Linked DNA regions of Homo sapiens: region 1 is reported to be linked to region 2. Evidence: microRNA targets listed by miRTarBase, many of them from high-throughput screens and not tested one by one. Region 2 holds a microRNA gene; the other region holds the end of a gene's coding sequence.

Region 1 (16,335 bases), not on the chromosome of region 2:
TCAGCACCTCAAAGGACAATCAGGGTATCACAGAGCAGGAAAGGATAGGAAAGTCATATACTCCAGCTCTCTGTCTTTAGGCCAAAACATGACTGAGCCAATTCAACTAGTTTTGGAAATCTTCCAAGAAGGCAGTAACCCAATTCAATGTTTAAACATCCTCCAACTCTGTCAAAAGTTCTATAATAGCAAACCATCCTCAAAACCTCTTGGTGCATTATGGGAGATAAATAGCAGGTTCCTTCTAGCCCTGTATTTCATGTTTTGAGTATATGAAGAGTGAGAATTTCCCGTAACTTAGATCATGAATCTAACTTAGATTTCGTAACTTAGATCATGAATCCTGCAAGGTTTCCGCGGCTAGCTACCAAGGTAGAAGAAGAGGTTGCCTAACAAAAATGCTAAGAGATCCTGGTGAGAAGAAGGTGGGAGTAGCTGCAGGAGACGTTATACTTTCACTTGCCTTAAGTTTAATTGCATCAAAGATGAATCCGCAGATGCGATGTCAATTCGAGGCAGAGAGTATTGGGGGGCATTGAAGCAATGGGGAGCCAAGTAACGTGGAGAAGAGTGAGAGACACACAGGTCAGGAGAGAAAGAAACCAACTCTAATACTGACACCGAGGTTTCTGATGGTCAAAAGAGTTCCTGAATAAACCAAAAGTAAGTTATTAAGCTCTGAGACAACCCATTTACCAGGAAAGCTGGGGTAGGTCTTGGTTTCGCACCTTATTGTTTCAAATGACTGATATTTTGAGAGAAAGAACTACAGAACTATCTCTGAGCACAGCAGAGGAGACAGTTCATCAGTTGCTTTCCCCCACAGACAGTCACAATATTATGTGATGTATTTCAGAGGCGATGATATTCTCACCATCCTGACTGAAGTGAACTATGAAGTAAGCAACAAGGATGACAAGAAAAACATGGGGAAACAGATGCCTCAGCCTACTTTCACACTAAGAAAAAAACTTGTCTTCCCTTCTGATTGATGGTGCTATTTTGTTTGTTTTGTTTTGTTTTGTTTTTTTGAGACAGAATCTCGCTCTGTCGCCCAGGCTGGAGTGCAGTGGCGTGATCTCGGCTCACCGCAAGCTCCGCCTCCCGGGTTCAGGCCATTCTCCTGCCTCAGCCTCCCGAGTAGCTGGGACTACAGGGGCCCGCCACCACACCTGGCTAATTTTTTAAAAATATTTTTAGTAGAGACAGGGTTTCACTGTGTTAGCCAGGGTGGTCTTGATCTCCTGACCTCGTGATCCACCCACCTCGGCCTCCCAAAGTGCTGGGATTACAGGCGTGAGCCACCGCGCCTGGCCGATGGTACTATTTAGATATAACACTATGTTTATTTACTAATTTTCTAGATTTTCTACTTTATTAATTGTTTTGCACTTTTTTATAAGAGCTAAAGTTAAATAGGATATTAACAACAATAACACTGTCTCCTTTCTCTTATGCTTAAGGCTTTGGGAATGTTTTTAGCTGGTGGCAATAAATACCAGACACGTACAAAATCCAGCTATGAATATAGAGGGCTTATGATTCAGATTGTTATCTATCAACTATAAGCCCACTGTTAATATTCTATTAACTTTAATTCTCTTTCAAAGCTAAATTCCACACTACCACATTAAAAAAATTAGAAAGTAGCCACGTATGGTGGCTCATGTCTATAATCCCAGCACTTTGGGAGGTTGAGGTGGGAGGATTGCTTGAACCCAAGAGGTCAAGGCTGCAGTGAGCCATGTTCACACCGCTGCACTCAAGCTTGGGTGACAGAACAAGACCCCGTCTCAAAAAAAATTTTTTTTTTAATAAAACAAAATTTGTTTGAAATCTTTTAAAAATTCAAATGATTTTTACAAGTTTTAAATAAGCTCTCCCCAAACTTGCTTTATGCCTTCTTATTGCTTTTATGATATATATATGCTTGGCTAACTATATTTGCTTTTTGCTAACAATGCTCTGGGGTCTTTTTATGCATTTGCATTTGCTCTTTCATCTCTGCTTGGATTATTTTAAATCATTAGGAATTAAGTTATCTTTAAAATTTAAGTATCTTTTTTCAAAAACATTTTTTAATAGAATAAAATATAATTTGATCTTATTGCTCCTTGGAGATTTTTTGTGTTTGGTTTTGGTTTCTGCCAATGACATCTCACAGGTGGAAAACATCTGGACTACAGACATGTTCTACTTGAGTCTCCCATGATCGGCACACACAGTTGTATTTTTAAAATTTGTTGTCAATGTTTAAAAATTAGGAGATATCACATAAAAACCAGAATAACTTCTTTTAAAAAATCATACTATCTGACAATATTGACCTCATGCTTTTGCATGGCAAAGGTCTGAGAAGCACCTTCTTCAGATGGGACAGTGCTCTGTGGGTCACTCTTCCCCATCCGCTGTGCCCCAGCCCTGCCCAAGCCCCTCTACTGAGGCTGCTGTTGGTTGCCACTTATCACTGTGCTTGGGCAATTGTTTTCCTTATGTCTAGCCCACTTCACTTATTTATGTTGCCTGCACTGTGGGTGTCTGAATTCTGGTGATGGTCCAGAGGAGGTGGTAAGAATCATCAGAAACCCTTCCTAAGTCATAGGTTAGGGAACATGATTGAGAGGTAGGGAAGTAGGGGGCATGGGTGTGAGAGAAAAATATTTTAGAGTAAAATCAACACATCATCTTTTTTTGCTACCTAAATGCCCCAGGGGACAAAGGTACACCTCCCAAATATAGTAAAAGTTCAATATGAAGAAGGCCTTCAAATCAGTTTCTTTCTAACGAAATACGTCAAGGTAGAAGAAAAATAGTACAAAACTCAGAGAAAGCTCAGCTCCCAGTATGGAGAGCATCATTTTTCAGTGAAGAGTCCGTGATAAGCTGTGAAATTCAGATGCGAATTCAAACATTTTCAGACATTCAGAGAGTCAGAGCAACCCAAGAACTAAACTCATTATATGCATTTTCTCAAGAAAACCCTCCCAGGAGTTTCCTGGGCCTACAGAAATGGTGTGCCAACCATCTTCAACAATGCAGAGCAACTTTTTGTTTATGATTCTTGTCCTTTCTTGCTACCATCTTGCACAGTGTCAGAATCATCCTTAGAAACAGTAATAGAGGCCAATCTCCCAGAACATCCTTCACAAATTTCTTCATTCTTAGAAATTATCTTTTGCCTGTAAAAAGAAAGGAAAGATGTATCAATGTCAACTCAAAAGCTAGAAAGGGTATAGGATATTTGGAGTGCAGGGAGAGAAATGTGCCTTCGTTCCTTCACCACAGCAGTCTCTCACTCATTACTTGCAGTGGTTTTGAATTTAGTGAGGTATGGTGTTCAGGTGACTAAAGTCCTATACGAGGAATTTTCTACTAAATCAATGCAATAAATAACTTTCTTCTATTAAAGTATTGACCAAAATTTATTTTAATGATTTAAGATGCAGCTTCAGGTAACAGTACACCTTCTGATCCAAAGGTGATTTCCATAGGAACCAGAAGCAGCTGCATGTAATGGCAAGACCATCAGACTCCCAGGGGAGATGGATTTAAAAACCACCCTCAGTCATAGAACTGAGCAAACTCAGAAACTGGAAGACAAATGTCCTGTGTTGTTTTGCATAGAAACAAGGACACAGGTGAATGGGAGAAGTATAGACACATCTCCACTCCACCTCAAGTGAACTATCTGGCTTTGTGTCACTGGCCTAGAGTGACATACCTCCCTCCCGAAAACACCTGTGCCTTGACATAACTAGGGAGCAGTTGGTCTATCTTCCTAACCCATTCCTCACTCAAACTCCTTCCCACTCCTAAAGAGAACTCAGCTATGTCTTTTTCAGCAGCAGCCGCACTTCAGATGAATGTTCTCTTCCGTCAGGATCTGTATGGTGTGCTTATACTTTTCTTCAGTTTCAGCAAACTTGGTTTGAAGCATTTTCTCCAGATTTCCCACTATAGCTTTCTGAAAGACATACATTTTAATAGCCATCTTCCCCAACCCAGAGCCATCCAGGGCAGAGCTATATGGCAGAGCTGGATGGAGACCTGGGTTCTTCCCCCAACCCCCATCCCCACTCCAGTAGGGACTCACCTCTTTCTGGAGTTCCAACTGGGTATAGTAGAGGTTTGTGTTCAGTGACTCTAGGATAAGGGCTTGTGCATGCAATTCTTCCTGCATGACCTGCATAAGAAGAAGCTGTTGCAGGACATCATGCCAATGTCTATTTATTTGGTCTCTTCTCCAGGGCACCTGGACTATGATGAAAGGGAGCAACCTGAGCTACTTTTGCATCACTCATGGCCACTCACACCCTGTCAGTCCTGCCTCCTCTCTGTCTCACCCATCTATATCCTTCTCTTCAGCCTCACCAGAGCTCATATGAATGGTTCTAATGGCAATCAGTTATTCATTCACTAAGCAAGTCTTTATTAAATACCTACTACCGATTCCAATTATATGACACTCTGGAAAAGGCAAAACTATAGAGAGAGAAAAAAGATTAGTGGTTTCTAGGGATTTGGAGGGGAAGGGAGGGATGAATAGGTGGGATAGAGGGCACTTTTAGAGCAGTGAAACTATTCTGTATGACACTATAATGGTGGATACATGACATGACATATTAGGCAAAACCCACAGAATGTACAACACAAAGAGAGAACCCTCATGTAAACTATGGACTTTAGTTAATAAGAATGCATCCACATTGGCTCATCAATTGCAACTAATGTGCCATCCCAATGCAAGATACTAATAATAAAGGAAACTAGTGGTGGGGTAGGGTGGGGTGGGGTAGTATATGGGAACTCTCTGTACTTTCTGCTCAATTTTTCTGTAAACCTAAAACTGCTCTAAAAAGTAGCTTCTTGAAACAAACACACAAACTTCCACTAAAGAATGAATAGAAGCCTGTGCAAAGGTCCTTAGAATGCAAAATGCTCAGGGGTGGAGCCAAGACAGCCGAATAGGAACAGCTCCAGTCTACAGCTCCCAGCGTGAGCGATGCAGAAGACGTATGATTTCTGCATTTCCAACTGAGGTATCGTGTTCATCTCACTGGGGATTGTCAGACAGTGGGTGCAGTACAGTGGGTGCAGTGCACTGAGCATGAGCCGAAGCAGGGCGAGGCATCACATCATCCGGGAAGTGCAAGGGGTCAGGGAATTCCCTTTCCTAGCCAAGGAAAGGGGTGACAGATGGCACCTGGAAAATCAGGTCACTCCCACCCTAATACTGCATTTTCCAACAGTCTTAGCAAACGGCACACCAGAAGATTGTATCCCATGCCTGGCTCATAAGGTCCTACGCCCACGGAGCCTTGCTCATTGCTAGCACAGCAGTCTGAGATCAAACTGCGAGGTGGCAGTGAGGCTGGTGGAGGGGCGCCCACCATTGCTGAGGATTGAGTAGGTAAACAAAGTGGCCAGGAAGCTCGAACTGGGTGGAGCCCACCGCAGCTCAAGGAGGCCTGCCTGCCTCTGTAGACTCCACCTCTGGGGGCAGGCATAACCAAACAAAAGGCAGCAGAAACCTCTGCAGACTTAAATGTCCCTGTCTGACAGCTTGAAGAGAGTAATGGTTCTCCCAGCACGCAGCTTGAGATCTGAGAATGGACAGACTGCCTCCTCAAGTGGGTCCCTGACCCCTGAGTAGCCTAACTGGGAGGCACCCCCCAGTAGGGGCAGACTGACACATCACACGGCTGGGTACTCCTCTGAGACAAAACTTTCAGAGGAACAATCAGACAGCAACATTTGCTGTTCACCAATATCTGCTGTTCTGCAGCCTCCGCTGCTGATACCCAGGCAAACAGGGTCTAGAGTGGACCTCCAGCAAACTCCAACAGACCTGCAGCTGAGGGTCCTGACTGTTAGAAGGAAAACTAACAAACAGAAAGGATATCCACACCAAAACCCCATCTGTACGTCACTGTCATCAAAGACCAAAGGTAGATAAAACCACAAAGATGGGGAAAAAACAGAGCAGAAAAACTGAAAATTCTAAAAATCAGAGTGCCTCTCCTCCTCCAAAGGAATGCAGCTCCTCGCCAGCAACAGAACAAAGCTGGATGGAGAATGACTTTGACGAGTTGAGAGAAGAAGGCTTCAGATGATCAAACTACTCCGAGCTAAAGGAGAAAGTTCGAACTCATGGCCAAGAAGTTAAAAACCTTGAAAAAAGATTAGACGAATGGCTAACTAGAATAACCAATGCAGAGAAGTCCTTAAAGGACCTGATGGAGCTGAAAACCATGGCACAAGAAGTATGTGACAAATGCACAAGCCTCAGTAGCCGATTCGATCAACTGGAAGAAAGGGTATCAGTGATGGAAGATCAAATGAATGAAATGAAGCAAGAAGAGAAGTTTAGAAAAAAAAGAATAAGAAGAAATGAACAAAGCCTCCAAGAAATATGGGACTATGTGAAAAGACCAAATCTACGTCTGATTGGTGTACCTGAAAGTGACAGGGAGAATGGAACCAAGTTGGAAAACACTCTGCAGGATATTATCCAGGAGAACTTCCCCAACCGAGCAAGGCAGGCCAACAATCAGATTCAGGAAATACAGAGAACAGCATAAAGATACTCCTCGAGAAGAGCAACTCCAAGACACATAACTGTCAGATTCACCAAAATTGAAATGAAGGAAAAAATGTTAAGGGCAGCCAGAGAGAAAGCTCGGGTTACCCACAAAGGGAAGCCCATCAGACTAACAGCAGATCTGTCAGCAGAAACTCTACAAGCCAGAAGAGAGTGAGGGCCAATATTCAACATTCTTAAAGAAAAGAATTTTCAACCCAGAATTTCATATCCAGTCAAACTAAGCTTCATGATTGAAGGAGAAATAAAATACTTTACAGACAAGCAAATGCTGAGAGATTTGGTCACACCAGGCCTGCCTTAAAAGAGCTCCTGAAGGAAACACTAAACATGGAAAGGAACAACCGGTACCAGCCACTGCAAAAACATGTCAAATTGTAAAGACCATCGAGGCTAGGAAGAAACTGCATCAACTAACGAGCAAAATAACCAGCTAACATCAGAATGACAGGATCAAATTCACACATAACAATATTAACCTTAAATGTAAATGGGCTAAATGCTCCAATTAAAAGACACAGACTGGCAAATTGGATAGTCAAGACCCATCAGTGTGCTGTATTCAGGAAACCCACCTTACATGCAGAGACACACAGAGGCTCAAAATAAAGGGATGGAGGAAGATCTACCAAGCAAATGGAAAACAAAAAAAGGCAGGGGTTGCAATACTAGTCTCTGATAAAACAGACTTTCAATTAACAAAGATCAAAAGAGACAAAGAAGGCCATTATATAATGGTAAAGGGATTAATTCAACAAGAAGAGCTAACTATCCTAAATATATATGCACCCAATACAGGAGCAGCCAGATTCATAAAGTAAGTCCTTAGAGACCTACAAAAAGACTTAGACTCCCACACAATAATAATGGGAGACTTTAACACCCCACTGTCAACATTAGACAGCTCCACGAGACAGAAAGTTAACAAGGATATCCAGGAATTGAACTCAGCTCTGCACCAAGCAGACCTAATAGACATCTACAGAACTCTCCACCCCAAATGAACAGAATATACATTCTTCTCAGCACCACATCGCACATATTCCAAAATTGACCACATAGTTGGAAGTAAAGCACTCCTCAGCAAATGTAAAAGAACAGAAATCACAACAAACCGTCTCTCAGACCACAGTGCAATCAAACTAGAACTCAAGATTAAGAAACTCACTCAAAACCACACAACTACATGGAAACTGAACAACCTGCTCCTGAATGACTACTGGGTACATAATGAAATGAAGGCAGAAATAAAGATGTTCTTCAAAACCAATGAGAACAAAGACACAACATACCAGAATCTCTGGGACACATTTAAAGCAGTGTGTAGGGGAAATTTATGGCACTAAATGCCCACAAGAGAAAGCAGGAAAGATCTAAAATTGACACCCTAACATCACAATTAAAAGAACTAGAGAAGCAAGAGCAAACACATTCAAAAGCTAGCAGAAGGCAAGAAATAACTAAGATCAGAGCAGAACTGAAGGAGATAGAGACACAAAAAACCCTTCAAAAAATCAATGAATCCAGGAGCTGGTTTTTTGAAAAGATCAACAAAATTAATAGAATGCTAGCAAGACTAATAAAGAAGAAAAGAGAGAAGAATCAAATAGACGCAAAAAAAAACGATAAAGGGGATATCACCACCGATCCCACAGAACTACAAACTACCATCAGAGAGTACTATAAACACCTCTATGCAAATAAACTAGAAAATCTAGAAGAAATGGATAAATTCCTGGACACATACACACTCCCAAGACTAAACCAGGAAGAAGTTGAATCCCTGAATAGACCAATAACAGGCTCTGAAATTGAGGCAATAATTAATAGCTTACTAACCAAAAAAAGTCCAGGACCAGATGGATTCACAGCCGAATTCTACCAGAGGTACAAGGAGGAGCTGGTACCATTCCTTTGAAACTATTGCAATCAATAGAAAAAGAGGGAATCCTCCCTAACTCATTTTATGAGGCCAGCATCATCCTGATACCAAAGCCTGGCAGAGACACAACAAAAAAAGAGAATTTTAGACCAATATCCCTGATGAACATCGATGCAAAAATCCTCAATAAAATACTGGCAAACCAAATATAGCAGCACATCAAAAAGCTTATCCACCATGATCAAGTGGGCTTCATCCCTGGGATGCAAGGCTGGTTCAACATACGCAAATCAATAAATGTAATCCAGCATATAAACCGAACCAATGACAAAAACCACATGATTATCTCAATAGATGCAGAAAAGGCCTTCAACAAAATTCGAAAACCGTTCATGCTAAAAACTCTCAATAAATTAGGTATTGGTGGGACGAATCTCAAAATAATAAGAGCTATCTATGACAAACCCACAGCCAATATCATACTGAATGGGCAAAAACTGGAAGCATTCCCTTTGAAAACTGGCAAAAGACAGGGATGCCCTCTCTCACCACTCCCATTCAACATAGTGTTGGAAGTTCTGGCCAGGGCAATGAGGCAGGAGAAGGAAATAAAGGGTATTCAATTAGGAAAAGAGGAAGTCAAATTGTCCCTGTTTGCAGATGACATGATTGTATATCTAGAAAACCCCATCATCTCTGCCCAAAATCTCCTTAAGCTGATAAGCAACTTCAGCAAAGTCTCAGGATACAAAATCAATGTGCAAAAATCACAAGCATTCCTATACACCAATAACAGACAAACAGAGAGCCAAATCATGAGTGAACTCCCATTCACAATTGCTTCAAAGAGAATAAAATACCTAGGAATCCAACTCACAAGGGATGTGAAGGACCTCTTCGTTGACCACTGCTCAACGAAATAAAAGAGGATACAAACAAATGGAAGAACATTCCATGCTCATGGATAGGAAGAATCAACATCGTGAAAATGGCCATAATGCTCAAGGTAATTTATAGATTCAATGCCATCCCCATCAAGCTACCAATGATTTTCTTCACAGAATTGGAAAAAACTACTTTAAAGTTCATCTGGAACCAAAAAAGAGCCCGCATTGCCAAGTCAATCCTAAGCCAAAGAACAAAGCTGGAGGCATCTCGCTACCTGACTTCAAACTATACTACAAGTCTACAGTAACCAAAACAGCATGGTACTGGTACCAAAACAGAGATATAGACCAATGGAACAGAACAGAGCCCTCAGAAATAATGCCATATATCTACACTATCTGATCTTTGACAAATCTGACAAAAACAAGAAATGGGGAAAGGATTCCTTATTTAATAAATGGTGCTTGGAAAACTGGCTAGTCATATGTAGAAAGCTGAAACTGGATCCCTTCCTTACACCTTATACAAAAATTAATTCAAGATGGATTAAAGACTTAAATGTTAGACCTAAAACCATAAAAACCCTAGAAGAAAATCTAGGCAATACCATTCAGGACATAGGCATGGGCAAGGACTTCATGTCTAAAACACCAAAAGCAATGGCAACAAAAGCCTAAATTGGCAAATGGGATCTAATTAAACTAAAGAGCTTTTGCACAGCAAAAGAAACTACCATCAGAGTGAACAAGCAACCTACAGAATGAGAGAAAATTTTTGCAACCTACTCATCTGACAAAGGGTTAATATTCCAGAATCTACAATGAACTCAAACAAATTTACAAGAAAAAAACAAACAACCCCATGAACAAGTGGGCAAAGGATATGAACAGACACTTCTCAAAAGAAGACATTTATGCAGCCAAAAGACACATGAAAAAATGTTCATCATCACTGGCCATCAGAGAAATGCAAATCAAACCACAATGAGATACCATCTCACACCAGTTAGAATGGCGATCATTAAAAAGTCAGGAAACAACAGGTGCTGGAGAGGATGTGGAGAAACAGGAACACTTTTACACTGTTGGTGGGACTGTAAACTAGTTCAACCATTGTGGAAGTCAGTGTGGCGATTCCTCAGGGATCTAGAACTAGAAATCCCATTTGGCCCAGCCATCCCATTACTGGGTATATACCCAAAGGATTATAAATCATGCTGCTATAAAGACACATGCACACGTATGTTTATTGCGGCACTACTCACAATAGCAAAGACTTGGAACCAACCCAAATGTCGAACAATGATAGACTGGATTAAGAAAATGTGGCACATATATACCATGGAATACTATGCAGCCATAAAAAATGATGAGCTCATGTCCTTGGTAGGGACATGGATGAAGCTGGAAACCATCATTCTGAGCAAACTATGGCAAGGACAAAAAACCAAACACCACATGTTCTTGCTCAGAGGTGGGAATTGAACAATGAGAACACATGGACACAGGAAGGGGAACATCACACACCGGGGCCTGTTGTGGGGTGGGGGGAGGGGGGAGGGATAGCATTAGGAGATATACCTAATGTTAAATGACGAGTTACTGGGTGCAGCACACCAACATGGCACATGTATACATATGTAACAAACCTGTACATTATGCACATGTACCCTAAAACTTACAGTATAATAAAAAAAATGCAAAATTCTCATTCTGTTTGAGGACCCAAAGGAACACCAATATGGCTGGAATAGAGATAGTAAGGATAGAGGGCCATGGTGAGGAAATACAGGGAAGTCTGGTGGCACCTGAGAGGACAAGGTAACCTAAGAACAATGGGGACCTACTGAAGGGTTTTAAGCAGAGAAGTGAATGCACGTATCTTACTGTTTACATTATGCTCCATGGGGATGGATTGGAAGGGCAAGAGGGAAAGCAACGGAACTAAGGAGGAGAATACTACAGTCGTGTAGGTGAGAAATAATGGACTAGGGTAAGGTGACAACAGAGTTGGAGGGACGTGGATGAATTTGGATTATGTTATAGAGGATTGGCTGAGGCTGCTGGGTTGAATTTGGGAGAGTGAAAGGAAAGAAGAAATCAAGGATGACTTCAGGTCTAGGCTTAGAACAGCTGAGGGAGTTGACAATTTGGGGGCTAAATCTCTGGTGGAAAATTGAGAGTGTGGAACTGGGCATGTTAATTTTGAGGTGTCTGTATGTCACCTATGTTGAAATGTCAAATGGGCAGTTGGATGTACAAGCCTGGAGCTCAGGAGAGAGGCAAGGCTGGAGGTATCAAACCAAGTTATCAGTACAGAGATGGCTTTTACATCTGTGTGAACAGATGAGCTCACCAAAGGAGAAACGGGAGATAAAGAAGATAAGTGGGGCCTGGGAACAAGCCTCAAAATACTCCAGGACTTAGAAAGTAGGTGGGAGAACAGTGGGGTGCCATTGAAGGGTTTTAAGCAGAGTTCTAGTTCTAGTAAAGGAGATTGAGAAGGTGTGACCAATGAGGTGAAGGAAACACCAGAAGCCCATGAAAGCTAAGACAGGTGAATGTTGCAAGGAGAGAATGATCAATCGCACCTGATACTGCTCATGTCCAGTGAGGTGAAGCATTCCTTGGATTTGGCAACTCGGAATTTACTTGTGATTTTAACAAGAACAGTTTCCATGGCTGGGATTGGAGCAGAAGTCAGGTTGAGGTGTAAAGGGGAGGTGACCCTTCTAATAGGTTCTGCCTCCCATCATTTTGCCTCTTCAGATTCTCCTTCACATTGCTGCCACAGTTATTTTCCCAAATGATACTCTCTCCTCAAAAACCTCCAGTGGCATCCCATTTGGAGAAAAGCAAGTGTTGGGCAGGGAGCGGAGCCCTTAAATCGGGCACCTTCTGAGAAGGTGGCATTTGAATAAAGAACAGGAGGAGGAAAGGAAGTTAGTCATGTGGATATCCGGGAAAGAGCTTTTCAGGAAGAGAGAACATCAAAGACCCCCAGGTAGGAACATCCTGGCCTGTTAAGGGAACAGCAAGGAGGCAAGTGCCTCTGGGGTGGAGTGATGTAGGGAAGAAATAGAAAGAGACAAGGTTAGAGGAAGGAAACATCAGCAAGGAGCAGGTGGAACAATCCCCAGGGCCAACACAAGGCTGGGAATAGTTCATGGTCCCACCAGGCAGAGTAGAAAATCCTTCTCATACAGAGGGTGTGGTGTCAAGTACTCAGAGGGTATTACCTCAATAGTGGGGAAAATTAGTTCCACACTAAAGACTGCTTTAGTTCTGCCCAACGAAGCTTAAAAAGCAAGGCTTGAAAGGATCAAACTGTTTCCAGGCAACTTAACTGCATCCCAGGGCAAAGCTTAAGAATATCTAAAGGAATATAAAAATATTCAGCACCCAACAAGGTAAACACCAAAATGACTGACATCCAAGCCAAACTTACCAGGCATGCAAACAAGGAAATATGACCATAAATGAGGAGAAAAATCAATGAAGAGAAACAGGCCCAGACATGACACAAATGACAGAATTCGTAGACAAGCTCATGAAAATAGTTATTATAATACACTGGGTATATCTTCCTCCAAAGCCCATTTCTTGAACTTGTAGGACACCACAGTCTGTTTGCCTTTCCATAATGCTGAAGCCCTGCCTGGGCTCTAAGATAGAATTCATTTACAATGCCTTTATAATGACTAATGTTTTCTCAAACGTGTCCATTCTGGATCCAAGTCAAATTTTCAGTGATGGAAGAATCACACATCACCTTGTGGATTTGAACGGCTCCTCTTCAGTTGTCTCCCACAGACTGCCATAATTTGCCCCAGAATAGAGTCCCTGAGGAAGTTATCATGTGTGAGGTACATTCAGAGCTTAAGGAGGGGCTTGGTGACAGAGTTTCAAAGGAGACAGTTTTATACTTTTCAGAGCTCAAAGGGAAGAACTTGGTGTTTTATAACTGAAAGATCATTTGTGGTTTGAACCTTGCTAGAAATGAAAGTCATTCAACATTGAAGATCACATAGTATATTGCTGATCTATTTGTTCAAATCAGACTTTAAAAAGACCCACTGGCTTTATTTTACAGATAATTTCAAAAATTCTTTTTAACTTATTGAATCCAGTAAACTCAGCTTTAGGTCTTCCATTTCTTATTGGCTTTGGGGAAATTATCATTGATTCCATTATACTGACAGCTTGTTATTTTATTGGTGTATTTGTAATATACCAAGTCCACAGGAAAGGATGAAAAAGCTTACCTCTTTGGTTTTTCTCAGCTCTTCTAATTGCAAGGTGTCACTTTGATGTTGTTTCAAGAGCTCCTAAAAACAATTTTATTGGGAAAAGGTTAGCACTGTGGTTCTGGCACATCTTCTAGGGAGTTAAGAAAGCCAGACTAGGATTCAGGAATATAATATTCACCAAAGCTTAGACACTGCTATAATGAAGCACACATTATAAACTAGTGACATGACTTGTTGAAGTTAATGAAAATCTTAATTATGTTCAACCTTATCTCACTGACAAATATTAAAAGAAATTATATTTTCATCAAAAGCTTTTCTTAAGTCAGTGGATAGATTCAATACTCTTAAGAATTAATCTCGCCACAGATTGATCTTTATATTCAATGAAATCCCAGTCAAAATATCAGCAAACTTCCTTGATAAGCTAATTCTAAATTGACAAGCTAGTTCTAACATTTATGTAAAAATACAAAGCATGTGGAAAGGCAAAATAATCTTGAAAAACAATAGCAAAGCTAGATAACCTTTGCTACCCGATTTCAAACTTCAGTAGTCAAGACAATGTGTTGTTGACCTAAGTATGGAAAAATAGTCAAACAGAACGGAGAGTCCTAACACCCCAAATACAGCAAAGACACTATATTAGTCTGATCTCACATTTCTATGAAGAACTACCTGAGAGACTGGGTAATTTATAAAGAAAAGAGGTTTAGGGGGAGTTTCCAAGATGGCCAAATAGGAACACCTCCAGTCTATAGCTCCCAGCATGAGTGATGCAGAAGACAGGTGATTTCTGCATTTCCAACTGAGGTACCAGGTTCATCTCACTGGGGCTTGTCAGACAGTGGGTGCAGGACAGTGGGTGCAGGCCACGGACCGGGAGCCGAAACAGGGTGGGGCACCGCCTCACCTGGGAAGCGCGAGGGGTCAGATAATTCCCTTTCCTAGCCAAGGGAAGCCGTGACAGACGGCACCTGGAAAATCGGGTCACTCCCACCCTAATACTGTGCTTTTCCAACAGTCTTAGCAAATGGCACACCAGGAGATTATATCCCATGCATGGCTGGGAGGGTCCCACGCCCACGGAGCTTTGCTCACTGCTAGCACAGCAGTCTGAGATTGAATGGCAAGGCAGCAGTGAGGCTGGGGGATGGGCGCCTGCTATTGCTGAAGCTTGAGTAGGTAAACAAAGCGGCTGGAAAGCTCGAATTGGGTGGAGCCCACCACAGCTCAAGGAGGCCTGCCTGCCTCTGTAGATTCCACTTCTGGGGGCAGGGCATAGCTCAACAAAAGGCAGCAGAAACTTCTGCAGACTTAAACATCCCTGTCTGACAGCTTTGAAGAGAGTAGTGGTTCTGCCAGCATGGAGTCTGAGATCTGAGAATGGACAGACTGCCTCCTCAAGTGGGTCCCTGACCCCCGAGAAGCCTAACTGGGAGGCACCGCCCAGTAGGGGCCAACTGACAACTCATACAGCTGGGTGCCCCTCTGAGATGAAGCTTTCAGAGAAACGATCAGGCAGCAACATTTGCTGTTCTGCAGTATCTGCAGTTCTACAGCCTCTCCTGGTGATACCCAGGCAAACAGGGTCTGGAGTGGACCTCCAGCAAACTCCAACAGACCTGCAGCTGAGGGTCCTGACTGTTAGAAGGAAAACTAACAAACAGAAAGGACATCCACACCAAAACCTCATCTGTACATCACCATCATCAAACACCAAAGGTAGATAAAACCACAAAGATGGGGGGAAACCAGAGCAGAATAGCTGAAAATTTTAAAAATCAGAGCGACTCTTCTCCTCCAAAGGAATGCAGCTCCTCACCAGCAATGGAACAAAGCTGGACAGAGAATGAATTGACGAGTTGAGAGAAGAAGGCTTCAGATGATCAGTAATAACAAGCTTCTCCAAGTTAAAGGAGGATGTTCGAACCCATCACAAACAAGCTAAAAACCTTGAAAAAAGATTGGATGAATGACTAACTAGAAAAAACAGTGTAGAGAAGTCCTTAAATGACCTGATGGAGCTGAAAATCATGGCACAAGAACTATGTGATGCACGCACAAGCTTCAGTAGCTGATTCGATCAAGTGGAAGAAAGGGTATCAGTGATTGAAGATCAAATGAATGAAATGAAGCAAGAAGAGAAGTTTAGAGAAAAAAGAGTAAAAAGAAATGAACAAAGCCTCCAAGAAATATGGGACTATGTGAAAAGACCAAATCTACGTCTGATTGGTGTACCTGAAAGTGACAGGGAGAATGGAACCAAGTTGGAAAACACTCTGCAGGATATTATCCAGGAGAACTTCCCCAACCTAGCAAGGCAGGCCAACATTCAAATTCAGGAAATACAGAGAATGCCACAAAGATACTCCTCGAGAAGAGCAACTCCAAGACACATAATTGTCAGATTCACCAAAGTTGAAATGAAGGAAAAAATGTTAAGGGCAGCCAGAGAGAAAGGTTGGGTTACCCACAAAGGGAAGCCCATCAGACTAACAGTGGATCTCTCGGCAGAAACTCTATCTACAAGCCAGAAGAGAGTGGGGGCCAATATTCAACATTCTTAAAGAAAAGAATTTTCAACCCAGGATTTCATATCCAGCTAAACTAAGCTTCATAAGTGAAGGAGACATAAAATCCTTTACAGAGAAGCAAATTCTGAGAGATTTTGTCACCACCAGGCCTGTCTTTCAAGAGCTCCTGAAGGAAGCA
Region 2 (16,549 bases):
CCATCTGATCTTTGACAAACCTGACTAAAACAAGCAATAAGGAAAGGATTCTCTATTTAATAAATGGTGTTGGGAAAACTGGCTAGCCACATCCTGAAAACTGAAACTGGACCCCTTCCTTACACCTTATACAAAGATTAACTCAAGATGGATTGAAGACTTAAACGTAAGACCTAAAATCATAAAAACTCTAGAAGAAAATCTAGGCAATACTGTTCAGGACATAGGCATGGGCAAAGACTTCATGACTAAAACACCAAAAGCAATGGAAACAAAAGGCAAAATTGACAAATGGGATCTAATTAAACTAAAGAGATTCTGCACAGCAAAAGAAACTATCATCAGAGTGAACAGGCAACCCACAGAATGGGAGAACATTTTTTGCAATCTATCCATTTGACAAAGGCTAATATCCAGAATCTACAAAGAACTTAAACAAATTTACAAGAAAAAAACAACCCCATCAAAAAGTGGGCAAAGGATATGAACAGACACTCCTCAAAAGAAGACATTTATGTAGCCAACAAACATATGAAAAACAGCTCATCATCACTGGTCATTAGAGAAATGCAAATCAAAACCACAATGAGATACCATCTCACGCCAGTTAGAATGGCTATGATTAAAAAGTCAGGAAACAACAGATGCTGGAGAGGATTTGGAGAAATAGGAACACTTTTACACTGTTGGTGGGAGTGTAAATTAGTTCAGCCATTGTGGAAGAGACTGTGGCGATTCTTCAAGGATCTAGAATCAGAAATACCATTTGACCCAGCCATCCCATTACTGGGTATATAACCAAAGGATTAGAAATTATTCTACTATAAAGACACATGCACATGCATGCTTTTTGCAGCACTGTTCACAGTAGCAAAGACTTGCAACCAACCCAAATGCCCATCAGTGATAGACTGGATAAAGTAAATGTGGCACATGTACACCATGGACTCCTATGCAGCCATAGAAAAGGATTAGTTCATGTCTTTTGCAGGGACATGGATGAAGCTGGAAACCACGATTCTCAGCAAACTAACACAAGAACAGAAAACCAAACACCGCATATTCTCACTCATAAGTGGGAGGCGAACAATGAGAACACATGGACACAGGGAGGGGAATATCACACACTGGTCCTGTTGGGTGATGGGGGTGTAGGGGAGGGATAGCATTACAAGAAATACCTAATGTAGATGACGGATTGATGAGTGCAGCAAACCACCATGGCACTTGTATACCTATGTAACAAACCTGCACTTTCTGCACATGTATCCCAAAACTTTAAGTATAATAAAAAATTTTTAAAAAACAACAACAACAAAAAACATAAATAAAAGAGCAAGGTGTTATGCTACTTGGGAGACAGAAAACAATATGATGAGTCAGGCTATAGTATGTATTTGGAAGATAGAGTGAGAGACAGAGAATGAGAGATAGAAAAAAGAGATATAAAAAGAATTTAAAAATTTTTATTATTATACCAAATTATTGATATATTTTCTAAAGAAATGTTATAAAAAATAGAAATGCAAAAGTTAAGTTTAAGAAAGAGAACTAAAATAGAATGGTTAATCAAATTGCAGAATATCCATTAAATAGAATAGTACATAATAATGAAAATAAATAAACTACAGCTAAATGCCACATGGATGGAACTCATAAATACAGTGCTGAGCAAAGGAATCCAAAAGCAAAGAACTATATATATATTATTCCATTTTTATATGTGTCAAAAACAGGCAAAATTAATCTATAGAGTTGGAAATTAGGATACCTGGGGGTAAGTGACTGGAAGGTAACATAGGGGAGTTTCTATGAATCTAGTAATTTTCTGTATCTTGATTTAGGTGTTTGTTACACAACGGCAAAGTTATTTCAAGGTGTACACTTAAGATTTAAACAGTTTCCTGATGATTCAGTAAAATTTACAAACAAACAAAGAAATAGGGAAAGTCTATATAAAGAGTGATCCTTTAGAATATACTATAGAGGGAAAAAAGCAAGACACAAAACTGTATAACATGCTACATTAACATGTAGCATTAATTTTGCCTGTTTTTTGACGCATACAAAAATGGAATAATATATATGAAGTTTTCTTTCGGCTTCTTTTGCTCAGCACTGTATTTATGAGTTTCATCCATGTTGCATTTAACTGTAGTTTATTTATTTTCATTGTTATGTAGCATGTTATGCAGTTTTCTGTCTTGCTTTCTTCCTTCTTTATAATATATTCTAAAGATCTTGCTAATTTGTTTAACAATATATTGTGTGTAATAAAATATATATAAATATATATGTATATTTTGTCTCGCTTTTTTCCCTCTTTATAATATATTATAAAGACCTTGCTAATTTGTTTAAAGGTCTTGCTAATTTGTTTAACAAAAAAATATGATATTCTCTCTATATATGATATATGTAAAAATATATGGTTTTCTATTTGGCTTATGTACATATAAGAAAGAAAATTATGTTACATATTATATTTGCTTATATATGTATGTAATGAACGTCTATAAAGAAAAAACAAATTAATTACACTGTTTAGCTCTGCTGAGGGGAAGTAAGTAAGTGTCCAGGGGACAGGAATAGAAGAAAGATCCTTTATTGCATACACTGTTGTACCTTTTGAATGTCAAACCCAGTAAATATATTAGTTATGCAACACTTTGAAAAGAATCAAAGCCAGTTCAAATTGCCTTTATAAAATATTTTAAATGTGGGTTATAAATTGGGTCTGCAAAAGCCAATTCAGATGGATCCAGTTTGCCAGAGATTTCATAAATTATGGAGTTTTCAACAAAATATTGCTTCCTTCCAGTTTAGTTAATAGTTTTCAGAAATTCTCTGATAGTAAGTAGCAGAACACTAGAGTAAGAAAAATTAAATATACATAATAAGTACAGATAATTTAAGGGTCTGTATATCGTAGCCTACATTTGAATTTCACTCAAAAGCCATATAAAACAACTCTATGCTTTCTCCAGTATTACATAAATTTATGATTGTGATAGCAAGGACTGCTATGCCTAAAATATGAATGTTTTATTTTATTCATTACTCAGATCATGCATTACAAAAATCAAGACATTTTTTCTTCCCTATTTAGGTTTAAAATCGTATTTGTAAGAAGTCCAAGGATCATCCACCAGAAAGGCTTTAATATATAAGCCTTACCAGATGCAAAGGTTCATACTTGTAATCCTAATACTTTGTAAGGCCAAGGCAGGAGGATAGCTTGAGCCCAGTAGTTCAAGTCTAGCCTAGGCAACACAGTGAGACCCCAGGCCAAGCACAGTGGCTCATGCCTCTAATCCCAGCACTTTGGGAGGCTAAGGTGGGAGGATTGCTTGAGCCCAGGAATTTGAAATCAGCCTGGGCAACATGGAGAGAATCTGTTTCTACAAAAAAAAAAAAAAAATTAACATTAGTCAGGCATCATAGTGCACACCTCAGGAGGCTAAGGTGGGAGGACTGCTGTAGCCCAGGAATTCAAGGTTGTGTGAGCCAAGCTGATGCTACTGTACTCCAGCTTAGGTGACAGAGTGAGACCCTGTCTCAAAAAAAGCATAGTAAGAAACCATCTCTACTTTAAAAAAAAAATAGCTGGGTATGGTAGCACATGCCCATAGTCCCAGCACTAAGGAGGCTGAGGCGGGAGGATTGCTTGAGCCCAGGAGTTTGAGGCTGCAGTGAGCTAGGATCACACCATTGCACTCCAGCCTGGGAGACAGAGCAGGACCCTGTCTCCAATAATAATACTCCAATAATAGTAATAATAATAATGAAAGCCTATTACTTAACAATCTAAGGCTGGATTCTGCCTTCAAAAATTGTAAGACTAAAGACTGTAGGTGCCCTAATAAAATAAGCTAAAATTTATAGTATAAATTTATAAACTGAAACACATTTAGCATAAACATAAGAGTACTTAGAAAATTTACAGAATTAAACGGCTAATATCAGATGTTTTGGAGAATGTCCCAAAAGATGCTTGGTTAAATTCTCCTATAGGACCTGAACCTCCCATTCACCATACTTCGATAGATAATTTTATCTCCTCCAATAAGTTATGATCATAATGAATATTCTCATGTTACATGACAATATGTATGTATCTTTCTTAAGAGATAAATATCACATTTATCTTTAATGTAAGCATTAAAACATTTTCAAACTTCCTGTGATTAAAACTTATCTCAAATCTGTCAGCTTGCTCTTTTATGTTTCTACCAATTAATCTAACTCAGTTGAGATAATAAAATCACTATTGGAAATCATCACCACTAATCAATTCTTCCTCCCAAAAAGTCCATAAAAGGGGCCAGAACATTGCCTTCAACATTCCAATTGTGAGGGGAAATAAAAACACTCTGTCCATCCACATAAAAGTATACAGTCAGATCTATTCAAAGTATTAGAAGAAAAATCTTACAAACAGAGAGAAAGATAAAATCAATATGGTGATCTAAATAGGTTAATATTTTACTGGTAAAGAAAAAGAAACAGTAAAACAACTCTTTTTAAAATTTTATTATTATTATACTTTAAGTTTTACGGTACATGTGCACAATGTGCAGGTTTGTTACATATGTATACATATGCCATGTTGGTGTGCTGCACCCATTAACTCGTCATTTACCATTAGGTATATCTCCTAATGCTATCCCTCCCCCCTCCCCCCACCCCACAACAGGCCCTGGAGTGTGATGTTCCCCTTCCTGTGTCCATGTGTTCTCATTGTTCAATTCCCACCTGTGAATGAGAACATGCGGTGTTTGCTTTCTTGTCCTTGTGATAGTTTGCTGAGATGATGGTTTCCAGTTTAATCCATGTCCCTACAAAGGACATGAACTCATCCTTTTTATGGCTGCATAGTATTCCATGGTGTATATGTGCCACATTTTCTTCATCCAGTCTATCGTTGTTGGACATTTGGGTTGGTTCCAAGTCTTTGCTATTGTGAATAGTGCCACAATAAACATTCGTGCACATGTGTCTTTATAGCAGCATGATTTATAATCCTTTGGGTATATACCCAGTAATGGGATGGCTGGGTCAAATGGTATTTCTAGTTCTAGATCCCTGAGGAATCGCCACACTGACTTCCACAATGGTTGAACTAGATTACAGTCCCACCAACCGTGTAAAAGTGTTCCTATTTCTCCACATCCTCTCCAGCACCTGTTGTTTCCTGACTTTTTAATGATTGCCATTCTAACGGGTGTGAGATGGTATCTCATTGTGGTTTTGATTTGCATTTCTCTGATGGCCAGTGATGATGAGCATTTTTTCATGTGTCTTTTGGCTGCATAAATGTCTTCTTTTGAGAAGTGTCTGTTCATATCCTTTGCCCACTTTTTGATGGGGTTGTTTGTTTTTTTTTCTTGTAAATTTGTTTGAGTTCATTGTAGATTCTGGATATTAGCCCTTTGTCAGATGAGTAGGTTGCGAAAATTTTCTCCCATTTTGTAGGTTGCCTGTTCACTCTGATGGTAGTTTCTTTTGCTGTGCAGAAGCTCTTTAGTTTAATTAGATGCCATTTGTCAATTTTGGCTTTTGTTGTCATTGCTTTTGGTGCTTTAGACATGAAGTCCTTGCCCATGCCTATGTCCTGAATGGTATTGCCTAGGTTTTCTTCTAGGGTTTTTATGGTTTTAGGTCTAACATTTAAGTCTTTAATCCATCTTGAATTAATTTTTGTATAAGGTGTAAGGGATCCAAATTCAGCTTTCTACACATGTCTAGCCAGTTTTCCCAGCACCATTTATTAAATAGGGAATCCTTTCCCCATTTCTTGTTTTTGTCAGGTTTGGCAAAGATCAGATGGTTGTAGATATGCAGAATTATTTCTGAGGGCTCTGTTCTGTTCCATTGATCTATATCTCTGTTTTGGTACCAGTACCATGCTGTTTTGGTTACTGTAGCCTTGTAGTATAGTTTGAAATCAGGGAGTGTGATGCCTCCGACTTTGTTCTTTTGGCTTAGGATTGACTTGGCAATGGGGGATTTTTTTGGCTCCATATGAACTTTAAAGTAGTTTTTTCCAATTCTGTGAAGAAAGCCATTGGTAGTTTGATGGGGATGGCATTGAATCTATAAATTATCTTGGGCAATATGGCCATTTTCACGATATTGATTCTTCCTACCCATGAGCATGGAATGTTCTTCCATTTGTTTGTATCCTCTATTTCCTTGAGCAGTGGTTTGTAGTTCTCCTTGAAGAGGTCCTTCACGTCCCTGTAAGGTGGATTCCAAGGTATTTTATTCTCTTTGAAGCAATTGTGAATGGGAGTTCACTCATGATTTGGCTCTCTGTTTGTCTGTTATTTGTGTATAAGAATGCTTGTGATTTTTGTACATTGATTTTGCATCCTGAGACTTTGCTGAAGTTGCTTATCAGCTTAAGGAGATTTTGGGCTGAGACAATGGGGTTTTCTAGATACACAATCATGTCATCTGCAAACAGGGACAATTTGACTTTCTCTTTTCCTAATTGAATACCCTTTATTTCCTTCTCCTGCCTGATTGCCCTGGCCAGAACTTCCAACACTATGTTGAATAGGAGTGGTGAGAGAGGGCATCCCTGTCTTGTGCCAGTTTTCAAAGGGAATGCTTCCAGTTTTTGCCCATTCAATATGATATTGACTGTGGGTTTGTCATAGATAGCTCTTATTATTTTGAGATATGTCCCATCAATACCTAATTTGTTGAGAGTTTTTAGCATGAAGGGTTGTTGAATTTTGTCAAAGGCCTTTTATGCATCTATTGAGATAATCATGTGGTTTTTGCCTTTGGTTCTGTTTATATGCTGGATTACATTTATTGATTTGCGTATATTGAACCAGCCTTCCATCCCAGGGATGAAGCCCACTTGATCATGGTGGATAAGCTTTTTGATGTGCTGCTGGATTCTGTTTGCCAGTATTTTATTGAGGATTTTTGCATCGATGTTCATCAGGGATATTGGTCTTAAATTCTCTTTTTTGGTTATGTCTCTGCCAGGCTTTGGTATCAAAGCCTGGATGCCAGGATGATGCGGGCCTCATAAAATGAGTTAGGGAGGATTCCCTCTTTTTCTATTGATTGGAATAGTTTCAGAAGGAATGGTACCAGCTCCTCCTTGTACCTCGGGTAGAATTCGGTTGTGAATCCATCTGGTCCTGGACTGTTTTTGGTTGGTAAGCTATTGATTATTGCCACAATTTCAGAACCTCTTATTGGTCTATTCAGATATTCAACGTCTCCCTGGTTTAGTCTTGGGAGGGTGTATGTGTCCAGGAATTTATCCATTTCTTCTAGATTTTCTAGTTTATTTCCATAGAGGTGTTTGTAATATTCTCTGATGGTATTTCTGTGGGATCGGTGGTGATATCCCCTTTATCATTTTTTATTGCATCTATTTGATTCTTCTCTCTTTTCTTCTTTACTAGTCTTGCTAGCGGTCTATCAATTTTGTTGATCTTTTTGAAAAACCAGCTCCTGGCTTCATTAATTTTTTGAAGGGTTTTTTTGTGTCTCTATTTCCTTCAGTTCTGCTCTGATTTTAGTTATTTCTTGCCTTCTGCTAGCTTTTGAATGTGTTTCCTCTTGCTTCTCTAGTTCTATTAATTTTGATGTTAGGGTGTGAATTTTGGATCTTTCCTGCTTTCTCTTGTGGGCATTTAGTGCTATAAATTTCCCTCTACACACTGCTTTGAATGTGTCCCAGAGATTCTGGTATGTTGTGTCTTTGTTTTCGTTGGTTTCAAAGAACATCTTTATTTCTGTCTTCTTTTCGTCACGTACCCAGTAGTCATTCAGGAGCAGGTTGTTCAGTTTCCATGTAGTTGAGCGGTTTTGAGTGAGTTTCTTAATCCTGACTTCTAGTTTGATTGCACTGTTGTCTGAGAGACAGTTTGTTATAATTTCTGTTCTTTTACATTTGCTGAGGAGAGCTTTACTTCCAACTATGTGGTCAATTTTGGAATAGGTGTGGTGTGGTGCTGAAAAAAAATGTATATTCTGTTGATTTGGGGTGGAGAGTTCTGTAGATGTCTATTAGGTCTGCTTGGTGCAGAGCTGAGTACAATTCCTGGGTATCCTTGTTAACTTTCTGTCTCGTTGATCTGTCTAATGTTGACAGTGGGGTGTTAAAGTCTCCCATTATTATTGTGTGGGAGTCTAAGTCTCTTTGTAGGTCACTCAGGACTTCCTTTATGAATCTGGGTGCTCCTGTATTGGGTGCATATATATTTAGGATAGTTAGCTCTTCTTGTTGAATTGATCCCTTTACCATTATGTAATGGCCTTCTTTTTCTCTTTTGATCTTTGTTGGTTTAAAGTCTGTTTTATCAGAGACTAGGATTGCAACCCCTGCTTTTTTTTGTTTTCCATTTGCTTGGTAGATCTTCCTCCATCCCTTTATTTTGAGCCTATGTGTGTCTCTGCACATGAGATGGGTTTCCTGAATACAGCACACTGATAGGTCTTGACTCTTTATCCAATTTGCCAGTCTGTGTCTTTTAATTGGAGCATTTAGTCCATTTATATTGAAAGTTAATATTGTTATGTGTGTATTTGGTCCTGTCATTATGATGTTAGCTGGTTATTTTGCTCGTTAGTTGATGCAGTTTCTTCCTAGCCTTGATGGTCTTTACATTTTGGCATATTTTTGCAGTGGCTGGTACCGGTTGTTCCTTTCCATGTTTAGTGCTTCCTTCAGGAGCTCTTTTAGGGCAGGCCTGGTGGTGACAAAATCTCTCAGCATTTGCTTGTCTGTAAAGTATTTTATTTCTCCTTCAATTATGAAGCTTAGTTTGGCTGGATATGAAATTCTGGGTTGAAAATTCTTTTCTTTAAGAATGTTGAATATTGGCCCCCACTCTCTTCTGAACAACTCTTTACTGATCTTAAAGTTTTTTGATATCCTTGAAATTTCTGCTACATTACTTATTTTAAACTAAAATAACCAGAATTAGGACTAAAGAAATAAGTCCTATCTAGTTTCAACAAATTTCTAAAATATAAATTCCTTTCCTCTTAAAAAAAAAGACTAAGTTTAGAGATTTGGCGTGAGATAGCTGAGTAGAAGTGGGTAATAAGCACCACTCTCATGGAGAGAAGAAACAGTGGTGAATGGACACTAGCTCTTCAACCAGAACATCCAGGTGGAAACATGGGGATTTATCAGGGAAACAGCATCACCCACAGTGAACAGAGAAGAGCAAGACAGGACAATTGCCCACCCAGAAGTGGCATGGAGCCAGAGGAGTCCTCACATCACAGGGAACAGTGAGTGAGTGAGAGTCCCCAGGGATTCACACTTCTGTCATGGACCTTTGCATCCTTGGACTCAGGATCAGGAGATTTCTCATGATCCCTGCAACCAGGGCTTCCAGACAAACATGCAAAGAGTTATGTGGAGTCTTGGCAGAGCCATCACTCAGGTACTCACAGACTCCCAGGAGTGCTGGATCCCCAGGCACCTCAACACCAGCAGATGCAGCTCTAGCAATGGAGGAGGCCAGGCTCCCTCACGTCTCCAGGAAAGGGGCTGAATCCATGTGGCTGAAGAGTAACTAGGCCCAGTAGACCTTATCCTGCAAGGTGCTACAGGCCTCGTCTCTGCAGCACCTTGCAGGATAAGACCCATGGGCCTGGGACACTAGTGAGACCACCACAGCCCTACCAGAATTCTCGGATCAGGAGCAGCTCTGTGCTTTTCTGGGACAAGCTTCTAGAGGGAGAGGCAGACCACATCCACAACCCTCCCTCCTGTTTGCCCTCAGGCTGGGGAGTGTACTCAGTGATTAGGGGCAATCGTAGACACTCAGTAAAAGGCAGCCACCTTAAGGAAAAGTAGCCAGATTGTTTTACACAGGAGCCCCCACCCCTGCTACTTCTCACTGAGCAAGGCCTCCTGACCTAGAACCTCAACCACCCCACACTGGACTCTTAGGCCACTACCAGCTCTCCACTTCCCTGGGACAGAGCTCTCAGTGGGAAAGGCAGGCCACCATGTTTGTTGCCCTACAACCTTCCCCACTGATGCCCTCAAGATCAGGAGGGTACACAGTGATTAGGGACTACCATGAACCCCTAGCACAGTGCAGCCACCTTACAGAAAAGCAGCAGACTGTTTTCTACATGGGTCCCCAACCCTGCTATGGTTCTCTGGGCAGTGTCTCCCTACCGGGGTCTCTAGCCACCCCCTACCTAGGCTCTCAGGCTAGTAGCAGCTCTGTGCTTTTCTGGGACAGAGCTCACAGAAGGAGCAAGCAGGCCACCATTTTTGCTGCCCTGCAGCCCTTGCTCCTGTTGCCCTTGGGATTGAGAGGACATATAGTGGTTGGGGACCGATACAAACCTCTAGCACAACACAGCCACTTTATGGAAAAGCAGCCAGACTTGTCCACATGCCTCCACTACTCTTCACTGGGCAGTGCCTCTTGACCTGGGCTCCCAGCACCTGTAGTCCCAGCTACTCAGGAGGCTGAGGCAGGATAATCGCTCAAACCAGGGAGGCGGAGGTTGCAGTGAGCCAAGATTGTGCCACTGCACTCCAGCCTGGGCAATAGAGCAAGACTCTGTCTTAAAAAAAAAAAAAAAGACTCTAACTGATCTGATAGAGTGGAAAACACACTACAAGAATTTCATAATGTAATTGCAAGTATTAACAGAAGAATAGACCAAGTTCAGGAAAGAATCTGAGAGCTCAATGACTGGTTCTCTGAACTAACTCAGTCAGAGAAAGAAAATGAACAAAACACTCAAAAAATAAAGGATTATGTAAAGAGACCAAATCTCCAATTCATTAGTATCCCTGCAAGAGATAAGGAGAGAGCAAGCAACTTGGAAAATATATTTCAGAATATCACCCATGAAAACGTCCCCAGCCTCACTAGAGAGGCCAAAATACAAATTCAGGAAATGCAGAGAACCAGCGTGAGATACTACACAAAAAGACCATGGCCAAGACACATAATTAGATTCTCCAAGGCTGAAAGAAAAGGGAAAAAGTGAAAGGCAACTGGAGAGAAGGGGCATGTCACCTACAAAGGAAACCCCATCAGGCTAACAGAGGACCTTTCAATAGAAACCTTACAAGCCAGAAGAAATTGGGGGTCTATATTCAGCCTTACTAAATAAAACAATTTCCAAGCAAGAATTTCATATCCAGCCAAACTAAGCTTCATAAACCTAGGAGAAATTAGATTCTTTCCCGATAAGCAAATGCTAAGGGAATTTATGACCACCAGACCTGCCTTACAAGAGGTCCTGAAAGGAGTGCTAAATATGGAAAGCAAAGACTGTTATAAGCTACTACAAAAAGACACTTAAGTATACAAACTGTTGACCCTATAAAGCAACCACACAAACAAGTATGCACAATAGCCAGCTAGAAACATGATGAAAGGATCAAATCCACACACATAAATATTAAACTTGAATGTAAATTGGCTAAATGCTCCAATTAAAAGGCACAGAGTGGCAAGCTGTATAAAGAAGCAGGACTGAATGGTATGCTGTCTTCAAGAGACCCATCTCACATGTAATGACACCCATAGGCTCAAAGTAAAGGGATAGAGGAAAATCTACCAAGCAAATGGCAGTCAGAAAAAAGCAGGGGTTGTTATTTCAGACAAAACATACTTTAAGCTAACAAAGATCAAAAAAGACAAGGAAGGACATTACGTAATGGTAAAGGGTTCAATTCAACAAGAATGCCTAACTATCCTAAATATATATGCACCCAACACAGGAGTACCCGGATTCATAAAGCGAGTTCTTAGAGACCTACAAAGAGACTTAGATTCCCACACAATAATAGTGGGAGACTTCAACACCCTACTGACAGTTTTTAGATAGACCATCCAGTCAGAAAATTAACAAAGATTTTCAGGATCTAAACTTAACACTTCACCAAATGGAACTATTAGACATCTACAAAATGCCCTACCCAAAAGGAACAGAATATACCATCTTCTTATCTGTACATAGCACATACTCTAAAATCAACCACACAATTGGACATAAAACAATCCTCAGAAAATCTAAAAAAAATGAAACCATACCAACCACACTCTCAGGCCATAATGCAATAAAAATAAAAATCAATACTAAGAAAATCGCTCAAAACCATACAATTGGATGGAAATTAAACAACCTGGTCCTGAATGACTTTTGGGTAAACAATGAAATTATGGCAGACATCAAGAAATTCTCTGGAACTACTGAGAACCAAGAAAACATACCAGAATCTCTAGGACACAGCTAAAGTAGTGCTAAGAGGAAAGTTTATAGTGCTAAAGGTCCACATCAAAAATTCATAAAATCTCAAATTAGCAACCTAACATTACACCTAGAGGAACTAGAGAAACAATACAAAACAAACCCAAAGCTAGCAAAAGACAAGAAATAACTAAAATCAGAGCTGAAATGAAGGAAACTAAGAGGCAAAAAAACCATACAAAAGATCAATGAGTACAAGAGTTGGTTTTTTGACATAAGAAATATGATAGACCACTAGCTAGGCTAATAAAGAGAAAAAGAGAGAAGATCCAAATAAACAATCATAAATGCCAAAAAAGACATTACCACCAACCCCACAGAAATATAAAAAACCCTCAGAGACTGCTATGAACACCTCTATGCACATAGACTAGAAAACCTAAAATAAATGAATACATTCCTGGAAACATACAAACTCCCAAGATTGAGCCAGGGAGAAATTGAATCCCTGGACAGACCAATAAAGAGTTCCAAAATTAAATCAGTAATAAAAAGCCTACCAACCATAAAGGACCCAGGACAAGAATGATTCACAGCCAAATTCCACCAGATGCATAAAGAATAGCTTGTACCATTCTAACTGAAACTACTCCAAAAAATTGAGGAGGAGGAACTCCTCTCCAACTGATTCTATGAGGCCAGCTTCATCCTGATACCAAAACCTGGCAGAAATACAACAAAAAAATCTTCAGGCCAATATCCTTGATGAACACAGATGTAAAAATTCTCAACAAAATACTAGCAAACTGAATCCTGCAGCACGTGAAAAAGCTAATCAACCACACTCAAGCAGGCTTTATCCCAGGATGCAAGGTTGGTTCAATAATCACAAATACATAAATGCGATCTACTACATAAACAGAACTGAAAACAAAAACCACATGACTATCTCAATAGATGCAGAAAAGTCTTCTGGTACAATTCGATGTCCTTCATGTTAAAACCCCTCAACAAACTAGACATTAAAGGAACATATTTCAAAATAAGAAGAGCCATCTATGACAAACTCACAGCCAACATCATACTGAATGGGCAAAACCTGGAAGCATTCCCCTTGAAAACCAAAACAAGACAAGGATGCCATCTCTCACCATTCCTAGTCAACATAGACTGGAAGTCCTAGGCAGAGCAATCATGCAAGAGAAAGAAATAAAAGGCCTGTAAATATTAATAGGAAGAAAGGAAGTCAAATTATCTCTCTTTGAAGATAATATGAGTCTACACATAGAAAACCCCATAATCTCAGCCCAAAAGCTCCTTAAGCTAATAAACACTGCATTAGTAGGTGACTGGATCTATATCAATTACGCATTTTCTACAAAAAAGAAAACACTATGAAAGTAAGCATAAACATTAAATTATTTCTAGCTGTTGAGATTATGAGGAAAAAAGCCTGTCAAGTTAACAAAAACTTGCTCAGGAAATAATTTTGTTGTACATTAAGAAATTGTTTAATTCATAGGTTCTTACCGTTCCCGGTTAAATTTAAGAGAATGGAGTATGGCTGGCCTTTTTTGTCTAAGGTTCCACAAATGAAGTGTATCATCTGAACTTGCACTGACCAAGGCACCCTAGAACAAAAAGAAGATAAAGTAAGTGTGTGATTTACTTAATTTAGGGTTTTTTTAATCACAAACAAGCTAATTTACTCAATGTTTACTACCTGAAGAGTTACTTTTGTTATCTCAGAAATATAAGGAAGGATAGGTGCATAAACTTCAATCAGGAAGGGTAAGAATGCTGAAAGTAGAAGAGGCAACTGACCCACTGCATTTCAACGGTCAGGGAGACTAGCTTAAGGAATATTTATTTACCAATAGAGAGGATTAATTATTATAGCACTGTTATGGCCATTAAAGGTTTTTCTTTGGGAAAAAATAGTTTAGGGATGGTTTTTGTTTCTACTGTTTACACATATACTATATAGCCTTACAGAGAAGAAAATATTCAATGCAGTCTTACAAAATTGAATACAGGTCATATAAAAATTCTCCTTTGCAAGAATTTTCTGTATATTTGGAAAGCGTATATTCTTCCTAAAAAGTATATTTGGTATAATTTAATTTGCTTCTTATAGTCCAAGAAGCTTCATCAATTATAAAGGAAATATCCATAATAAAAGAAAACATTTCTCCAACTAGAATTTAGTATAACTATAAAATTATACTAAGATTCCTTTTATACAGCACCACCAAATACAAATGAATCCTATTTCGCATACAATAGGATATTTTCTACCTCTTAATGTGGCAGAAAGCATGTGGACAGATAATAACTGTTTGTATGACTTTGTATATATGCTTAAACTATTTATTTGACTGGGTTAAATCAGATCATTTTAAAATGTTAGAACTTTTACCATAATGACAGCTAACCAGCTGAAAATGTCGATGCTTACCCATTCACAGATCCTAAATCCAGAGCATTAAATGTGTTCTCTAAGAGTGATCTTTCAGAACCTTGGTTGTCCAGAGATACCTAAAAGGCTTTTTATATTTTCCAAAGTACTTTGTTAGAAGTAATCTCTCATAGTTTACAGTATCAATCACAGATATCCCATTTAGATGCTAGGAAGAACGATATTGAAATTGCTAGCATTTATTTCTTCTTTAGGAATTAGAAGAGAGAAGATAGGAATCTAAATGCCCTTCTATAATAATTTCTAAGCCAAAAAAATGCTCATGTATCCTATGATAGGTCTCTTTATATTTGGTACCTGTGATTTTAGTCTCAGAGAGGAATGGCTTTATAAAAATAGAAACATAATCAAAGATCATATCCAAGAAAATATTTAGAAATTTGTATGATTTGCACATTTATATCTAATTACATACATACATGTTCAAAGATGTATATATTGATATATACATCTTAACATGAACTCAGATAATTTCCTTCAATGAAATAGGAGGTATTCTATATATAAGCCTTGATAATTTTTGTGTTTGTTTGCCTGTTTTATTTGTATACTGTACTTATGCTTCCTATAAACAAACGAGAAATTTATTAGGATTCCTTGGAAGCATTTGATGAGTTACACTTGATTTTTTTGAATACAGTATACTGGTCTCATTTCTCAGAGAGGTGGAAGTTCACCTGAGATGGGGTGAGGATAGAACATGATATGTAACAACAATAAAACATTCTCTACAAGAGATAGTTACATGCTATACAGAAGATAAAACATGCCAAAGGCAATGTTATTAAAGTAGCATATATTCAATAATATCTTACAGTAATACCTAAATAATTCTAGTGAGGAACTCAGTATTCTTTTTTTGTTTGTTTGTTTGTTTTTGAGATGGAGTCTCGCTCTGTTGCCAGGCTGGAGTGCAGTGGTGCGATCTTAGCTCACTGCAACCTCTGCCTCCCAAGTTCAAGCAATTCTTCTGCCTCAGCCTCCTGAGTAGCTGGGACTACAGGTGTGTGCAACCACGTCCAACTAATTTTTGTAATTTTAGTAGAGACGGGGTTTCACCATGTTGGCCAGGATGGTCTTGATCTCTTGACCTCGTGATCCACCCACCTTAACTTCCCAAAGTGCTAGGATTACAGGCGTGAGCCACCGCGCCCGGCCAGTATTCTTAATTCTGTGATAAAACTGAGATGTGACTTATCATCGGAGAGAAGTGAACGGTACCACTAAGCATAACAGCACCAACAGAGACAGACACATGAAAGTAAGCAGAACACCACAGTGTCTAGGTTCATTTATAAAAACAAAGTGAACCTACCAAAAGCACTATAAAGATCTGTGAAAATGCTTAAAACTAAGAATAGAAAAACCAGTCAGGTCAGAAACTGGGAAGTTTGGGAAAAGATACAGCAGCTTTGTGTGAGGTACATAGGGCGAGTAGTTCAGGATAAATGAGGTGAACAAGGCAAGGAGGTTGAAGGCTTGTCTTTATTTATTCTTAGTTATGTACCACAGGGGCAAACTTAGGACCTGGAAGACAAGTCTCAAAGGATCAGACCCAGTACAAATCACATGGAAACAAATTATGCCTGTAAGTATACATCCATGCAGAAGGCAAAAAGCTGAGATCCCTCAACAAGGAACTACAGAGTATCACTGAGACCTCGAGAAGCCTGACATTCTAGATAATAATGAGCAGTTATTACAATGAAATATTTTTCAAATGTTTTCTTTACCTTCCTTTCTCATTTCAGTACCCCATAGCAAGTGTGCCTACATGGTGAAATATGCTACGTTTGTCAATAAAGAGGATCTCATAGTCCTCTGAGAAAGACTTTGAGCCAAGAGAAGTGAAAAGTG

Evidence for each region. Region 2 holds the annotated microRNA hsa-miR-5682 (GUAGCACCUUGCAGGAUAAGGU, at 9,574-9,595, opposite strand). A microRNA usually pairs through its seed, bases 2 to 8, with sites in the 3' UTR of a target mRNA and lowers its output. Matches are read on the target gene's strand: a 7mer-m8 pairs with bases 2 to 8, a 7mer-A1 pairs with bases 2 to 7 and ends in A, and an 8mer does both.
Region 1: miRTarBase lists CASP8 as a target of hsa-miR-5682. Seed matches in the 3' UTR shown: 7mer-m8 at 994-1,000.

Annotation. Positions count from the first base shown.
Region 1 is chr2:201,285,603-201,301,937 of GRCh38, forward strand. CASP8 (caspase 8) reads left to right here. Exons shown (of 9, transcript NM_001372051.1): 9 at 857-2,107. The coding sequence ends at 992. FLACC1 (flagellum associated containing coiled-coil domains 1) reads right to left here. Exons shown (of 15, transcript NM_001127391.3): 12 at 13,636-13,698; 13 at 4,094-4,183; 14 at 3,855-3,964; 15 at 2,669-3,179. The coding sequence ends at 3,053. Among named protein-coding and RNA genes, the nearest start is that of CASP8, 33 kb to the left of the region's middle. RefSeq lists an enhancer at 2,828-2,972 and a cis regulatory region at 2,900.
Region 2 is chr3:121,042,730-121,059,278 of GRCh38, reverse strand. It overlaps MIR5682 (microRNA 5682), which reads right to left and starts at 9,639; the gene lies at 9,564-9,639. It overlaps STXBP5L (syntaxin binding protein 5L), which reads right to left. Exons shown (of 27, transcript NM_001308330.2): 5 at 13,744-13,844.